2 linked regions of the Homo sapiens genome follow. The protein of the gene in region 2 purifies or fractionates together with the protein of the main gene of each other region. This does not show direct contact. Each region holds a gene or a part of one and is shown on either strand. Other genes may lie near its edges.

The links.
Region 1: the proteins of RTL10 (region 2) and TGFBRAP1 purify together in Homo sapiens (affinity purification with mass spectrometry; one large-scale study listed by BioGRID and IntAct). This does not show direct contact.

The regions. Positions count from the first base shown.
Region 1 is NC_000002.12:105,273,930-105,277,745, forward strand, and holds part of TGFBRAP1 (transforming growth factor-beta receptor-associated protein 1), read right to left. Parts: intron 3,743-3,816; coding exon 3,685-3,742; intron 1,775-3,684; coding exon 1,631-1,774; intron 1-1,630. UniProt on the Homo sapiens protein: Plays a role in the TGF-beta/activin signaling pathway. It associates with inactive heteromeric TGF-beta and activin receptor complexes, mainly through the type II receptor, and is released upon activation of signaling.
Region 2 is NC_000022.11:19,848,761-19,852,190, forward strand, and holds part of RTL10 (protein Bop), read right to left. Parts: coding exon 2,407-3,430; 3' UTR 1-2,406. UniProt on the Homo sapiens protein: Could induce apoptosis in a BH3 domain-dependent manner. The direct interaction network of Bcl-2 family members may play a key role in modulation RTL10/BOP intrinsic apoptotic signaling activity.

The sequences.
Region 1 (3,816 bases), on a different chromosome or scaffold from region 2:
CAAGATAGAAAAGCCAGCCTATACCCTGAAGTCCTCCTCACACACCCCATGCAAATTGGAAACTGAAGAACAAAGCATTTACTGGTGACAGATTTTGACAACCTATAATAATAACATTAAGATCATCCAAGAACAGGGATAGCCAGTTGCAGAACAGTATGTGAAAAGATATCAAAAGTGCTGAAATTTCTGTACAGTAAACTCACTTCTCTGAACATGGATTATCTACTCTGGGTTATTTATGATAGATGGTTAATCTGAGATCTGAGCTTCCAGTCCCTGAGTAAGTTTCCGGGCTGCCTTCCTGTGTCCATCAAGTGGAGGCACTGGTCCAATCCTCTGGTTCAAGGAAAGGACAGTGAGGCAGGCAGGAAAGCAGCTCTCCACTGCACCTCCCCTGAGCACTTACATGTGGGAGGTTCTATCATGTGCACGCACACACGCACCTCCCCCCTCCAAGGCCAATACATTCACGTATCATGTATTATGGTATGAATTTTGGATTCTATAAGCCTGGATTTGTGTCCCAGCTCTACCAACTATAGCCTCAGTTTCCTCATCTGTAGCTAATGCCCACTGAGGGGCTGCTATGATGTTTAAGCGATGACCTTTGTCAGGGGATTGTCCACCGTGCAGTATCTGCTGTTATCATCCATAAGCATTGGGAGAAGCCTAAACCTTGCAACGGCACTGAGATCCATGTTGTAGGTGTGTGTGAGCAGGTCAGGATGTGCTCTGCAGGCGTGTGCACAGAGGCAAAGTAAAGATGGAGAAACAAGTATGCAAAGTGCAAGTGCCTGGCTCTGATTTTCCAGGGAAGCCAGCACCACGGAGGATATGAGAATATATTCCAACTCAGGTCTTAGAAAGGCAGATGCAGCACTCAGAAACTCTCCATTCAGGACCAACGTCCTGCATCAGAAAGCTCATTTTGTCTCTCCAAGGGGAGCCATGGAAGCGTATACGTTTTTCACGATGAGAACTGAAATGCTTGCTGTCTTCTTCCCAGTCACCTGTGGTCACCTGTGGGGCTTTACTAAGGATACTGTCCTGAGCCTGCTACCTTCCCTCTAGCCAACAGGTGCTTTTTCACTGCCAGCATTTCTCAGCCTCCAGGACAGGCCGAGTCTTGCTCATGGCTCCCCTCCCTCCTCCAGGCCCACAAGCTCCATGTTGGCAGTGGTGGGAGCAGGGATGAGGGCCCAGTGTGGCCCAGGTCTGGGTGCTTCCTCCTCCCAAAGATCAAGTCCTTCAGGGCAACCACCTAATCCTGCTCCAGAAAACAGCAGTGTCAGACTTCTGAGGGGTCGAGGAGCGGGGTTCACAGACACAAGTTCTTAAGAAGATGCTAAAAATGCAAGCTGGCTATGTCTTGCTTTTCTATACAAGTGACTTGCCCCAGCAAGGGGATTCTCAATGGAATGTCTCAGCAGCAAGATGCAGAACTGCCCTAGAGCTAGAATCCAGAGAGCTCAAGGGAAGGTATTAAAAGGGGAATAATAACAACAACAAAAAACAGAGGAGGAGGTTGAAATGTAGCTTTCTTTTCCCCTCCTAAAAGCAAAGCTTTTGGGGTCTGTTTTTACCACCTCCCCCAACCAAAGAGAATGCATTTTTACGAAGCACAAACCTCTTCACTTTTCTGCAGGACCCAATCAGCATAGGCCCACACTAGTTCCTCGTCTAAGCAGTAGGTAAGAAAATCCACGATGTATTCATACAGGTCTGAGCGTGTGGAGTCCTGGACATCGCCATTCACAATGTTCACCCACAACTGGAAAGGAATCAAAAAGAAAAAAAGAAAAAGAAAAGAAAAAACAATCATAAAGGCACATATCTCAGAATTAGTTGAGAAATGGCATATGTTTACTTATTTGGCTTTTTAATACCTTTTAAAGTAGTTGGAAAAACTGTAAATGCTTAAATTTTAGTTTTTTTGGAGAAATAAAGAAATGTAAAAAGACATAGTCCAAGAAATAAAAAAAAAAATTAAGCTCTAGGTTCTTTTATCTTTCTTTCTTTTTTTAACAATAACACAGTAAACAGAATATATGCAGGGAGGTGAATATATTAAAAATGTTTCTTCATGAAATAAAGAAAACGGTCACTGATAACATCTCGACACAGAGAAGATTCACCTACAACCATCAGCCAGGCTCTGTTTCCATCTTCTCCGTCACAGACATTCTTGATTTTGAAGTCCCCTTTGGACTGTGATAGGCAGATGTTGTGCTTTTACAAAAGCTTCAGTGATTCTGTCCCCTGAGTTCACACTGCCTTTTGCACAGGGGGCTCAGGATAGACTCCAGTGATAAAAGCCTTTTGCTTTTTCAGCCAGAAACTTCCCTACCATGTTAAGTGAAGCCTACTTTCAGGACCCCAGAATGAGGCAGCATCACTTGGGGGTAGAAAGGATGACGGTTGCGTGGGTTCCTTCTGCAATACCTGCATGGCGTGCCTCACCCACCCATACACAGCACCACCCCTCCAAGCCACAGCACCAGGAAGGAGCCCAGAAACAGGGGTGGCATATGAATTCTGGAATTCTGATGTCAGCATACGAACATTTTTTATGATACTAGTTTCTTCAACACAGAATTGCTGAAACCAAATAATCACACATACCTTGAAATATGCCATTTTATATAAAATTCTACCACGTATGGAGATTTATCCCATATCACTTCAAGTTTGCAAATCTATCTCTCTACAGCTCTGCTAAAGTTATTACTATACTTATATAAAGCTGTAACTGAGAACACCAGGTTTTTGAAAATGAAAATTTTATCACTGACACCCAAATCTACTCTTGGCCATTGGGTACGTGTTAATTCACCCAACTCCATTTTTTGTTGTTGTTGTTGTTCTGCTCTGCAATCAGGTTACCACAATAGTCTCACAAAGCAATCAAACACTAAATACATGTTCAGCCTTGCCAGAGTCATGAGGTTAACTTTAGCTTGGGGAACATGGCTGATGCTCTTGGCCCCTCACAAAATAAAGCAAAAAGGCACATCAGGAAACAACACGGTGCAGTACAAATGCATAACTAATAACGAAGGGGAGAAAGTCTCCCCCTGAGAGTGTGAGATGAGGCTTTTCTCAAGATCAGTAGCAAGATGTAAGATACAAAATGTGACAATGCTAATAAATCGATGCCATTTTGATTAGGGTGCAGGACCCCTGCCAGGCCAATGGAGCGCGGTTCAGATCCCAGATCTACCACGGACACATGGCCTCGGGCAAGCAACTGGCATGCATCAGCTTTGGTTTTGTCACAGGTGACACAAGGATAATAATGTACCCAGCTCATTGGCAACAGTGATCATCACTAACAGTGGAAATGGTAAATCCGACTATCATTCACTGCCTAAATTTTCTGATAAGGGTAGTGATATATTATGACTTGGAACTCTGTGAGATCATATTTTCATTTCTTAAGTTTTCAAAAACTCAGTCTTGATAATGTTCTTTAAGGAGATGGAAAGACAATGAGAAGAAAACTCTTGGCCAACATTTCTCCAGGAATTCACTTTCTAAAACAGAATCATTTTTATTCTGTATAAAAGGGTGTAGATCAGGCAAAAGTGGTCTCTATCAACTTGTGAATTTTTTTTAAGTAACACTAAGTATTACTTACATGGTGCTGATTTTTAAATCATGTGGAAACCCTTCTAGACTCACCTGAACTGCAGCAGCATCTTGGTTATTATAATGATAGAGCAGTCCAAGTGCAAAATACCTGAAACAGAACAACACGGTAAGTACAACCTCTCCCCATCAGCTCCTGGAGGCGACCTTCACACAGTGACACCC
Region 2 (3,430 bases):
GGCACAAAAGCCCCAAAGCCCCAATAGGACAGGGTTCAAAAGAGAAGGCAGCAATCCCAGGCTGGAGTATCCACTTCAGGTCCACTAAAGGGAGATGGGGAAGGTGGCCTGTCCAGAAGCCTGTGGGACAGGGTAAAGGTCAGCTGGGTGACTAGGCTGTCCATCCTAGAGAGCAACTCTGGGTTCTACTGCCAGACCCACAGGTGAGCCAGGCCACAGTGCACTGGAGGTAGGCATCAGGGAGCAGTCTGACCCAACCCACAAAAGGGGGGATGGGGCCTGAGTCATCGGACGGAGGGCAGCTGTGACCTGGCACAGAAGCATGGGGCTGGGCCAGGACATCCAGGGACTTCTCACATCTGACCAGAATCAAGACTGAAAATGGGTTTCTTCTGCCAGCTCACTTGCTTTGCTACCAGGGCTATACCTGCTTTCTAAAAATAGCTTCCCACCTATTTCCAAGGTTTCCAGTTGTTTTACCTACAAGGTATCTGTGCCCTGAAATAACTCACACATAAAACCATCTGAACCCAGAGCCTTTTCTAGTGATAGTTACCATAAAATAATCCCAACAATTTATATTTTTCTAAATAAGGTTTTTGTTTTTTGTTGTTTTTTTTTTTTTGGGATGGAGTTTCACTCTTGTTGTCCAGGCTGGAGTGCAATGGCGTGATCTCGGCTCACCACACCCTCTGCCTCCTGGGTTCAAGCAATTCTTCTGCCTCAGCCTCCCAAGTAGCTGAGATTACAGGCATGCACCACCACACTTGGCTAATTTTGTATTTTTAGGAGAGATGGATTTCTCCATGCTGGTCAGGCTGGTCTTGAACTCCTGACCTCAGGTGATCCACCCACCTTGGCCTCCCAGAGTGCTGGGATTACAGGTGTGAGACACTGCTCCCGGCCAGTTTCTGAATAAGTTTAATCAGATGCTTGCTAATTAGTTTTTCCTAAAATAGTTGGCTGTATTTCCAATTCACATTTCTGCTTTTTCTTCCTACTTTCCAGGAAGGTGTTGTTTTGTTGTTTTCACAATTGTAAACCTGAAAGGGACTTGAACTTCTTGTCCAAGCACCAGAGTGGGCACACACTGCACACACTGGGCGGCTGTACCTGCCTATCCTGTGGTAAACTTGGCTCCAGGAGCTTCCAAGCTCAGCTTCCACTAGAAAACCCCTCCTTGTGTGGAACAGGTCTTTCTTCATTCCATTCCTCTGGGCCTGGGGCCTCACAGCTCTGGACTGCTGCCTGGTCCTCACTTCACCTACAGCTCTCGGAAGTCAGTTCTCTACCTGCAGAGCCACCCACCCCCTACTCAGCCCCACCCAGCTTCTTTGATCAGACCCTTGGACCCTCAAAGCCCCTGCCAGAAACCACAGCTGCAATGCTGACCTGGAATGCTCATGGCCAGGCCTCTGCTCCTGACAGAATGGGAAACAAAGACTTGCTGGTAGGCAGCCACTGCACCACCTCAGCCAGTAATCCAACACGTGTTTAATGAGCACCAATTGTGTACCAGGCCACAGAGCTGACTAAGACAGAGCCCCTGTGCTGAGGGTCACAGTCTGCCAGGAGGGAGATCCAAGTCATTTACACACTAGGGCTTAAGTGCTGAATCCGCAATGCATGCGAGTGCGGAGTGAGCAGGGGATGGCAGCACAGCAGCAGGGAAGAGGAGCCTGCTTCAGAACACCAGGCACGATTAGAGCTACAGTGTTAACACACAAAGGGCGAATGCCTGCAGCTGAGCCTGGCAAGGGGCTTGCATCCCACCTTCCTGCATCCAAACCTTCCAGCTGCCCAGAACTGCTGGTAATCCCACAGGAAACATCATTCTTTGCCAAGATGCTATCCCACTCATCCCCCAGAATCAAAGTGGCCACTTCCTCCAGGCAGCCTTCCTCACATTCCAGCTGGGACAGAAGTCACAGGGAGCAGAGAGGGTGGGGCTAGGGGGACAGACACAGAAACCCCATACAGGAACGAGGTCCCAACAGGGCAGACGTGGCAGACCCAGTTCAGTCCCAGCCAGTGTGGAAGACACCAAGGGGGGTGTTTTATGGGGGTGGAGGTGACAAAGATGATGCAACTATCTGCTGAGAGTTGATCTACAAAACGACCCCCTCGTGGGAGCAGGCCTGGGTGAGACGGCACTCCCAGAAGACGGGCAGGGATGCAGCAGAGAGCCAGCAGCAGGGAAAGGGCACAGGGCGGAGGTCAAGCTCTGCTGGAGTTGGGGGAGCTGGTTCTGCTCAGCGCAGAGTCCAAAACAAGCGCATCTTGCCCAGCTATGGGGTCTGAAGTCATCTGGGGACACCACTCTGCTCTGACTGGGGACTATGGGGCGCTCAAGCCACACAGGCCACTTCATCATGAGGGGCAGCATTGTTCCCACCTGGGCTGTGTTCAGAACCCAGGAGAAAGTGGTGGCTCTCCTGGGGTCTCCGGGGCCTCCACCACCTCCTGTGGGGTACCTAAGGACACCTCCTGGTCTCCCTCTGTCTCCAAAACCTCCTCCTCTGTTTTCTGGGGTTTTGGACCTCCTGGATGAGCTGGGTCTGGTCTCTGGGCAGGAGGATTAGCTGACTCCGACAGTCTAGGGACAGGTGTGGGGGCTGCCTCCTCTGGCTGGGAAGAGGCTGGTTCCACAGGACCAGGCTTGGAGCTACATGTAGAACTGGGCAGGACTGGGGGCTCCTTGGGCCCAGGGGTGCTCTCCTTGGTCAGCTGCTGCTCGAACAGAGCACTTCTAGATACAGAGTTGGACCCAGACACAGCAGGGGTGGCCATGGCGGCTGGTAAAGACCTGGGGGCAGTACCCATGTCGAGTGCCAGGCCCTCTAAGAACCTAGCTAAGTATTGCCTCACCACAGGCAGCTGAGGGGCCACTGGCAGCTGGCTGGAGGCCAGGGGCAGGGGACAGGTAACCACAGCATGGTACTCAGCAAAACTGTTCGGGTCTTGAACAACTTCCTTGAGATCCTGGCAGAAGAGCTCGTAATCGTCAGGCAGGGGCAGGTCCCCATCAAGGTAGGGGGCTGCCCAGGCCTGGGCTCGGCCTGTTAGGCGCCTGAGGATCTCGCAGACACGGCTGATGTTGTCCTGATAGTGCTCAAAGTGGAAGGACATGTAATCGCCCAGCTGGGCCAAGAAGCGGTCCAGTAGCCACGGGGAGCCATCAAAGGTGCCTGGGTCTGAGCCTGGTACCCAGCAGAAGTCCACCCTGTGGGGTCGGGAGCTGGGCATGTGCCCAGCTAGGGGACCCCTTTCTGCAGGTTTACCGCCACAAGTGCCACTAGCTGTGCTCTTCTGCTCCATGGTCGTTCGCACACACACGGTGTCCCCACAGCAGGGCCGCTCAATCCAGGGATCCACAAGGGGGGTGTATGCCACCCCAGGAGACGCCTTGTCCATCTGCTGCCATGGATGT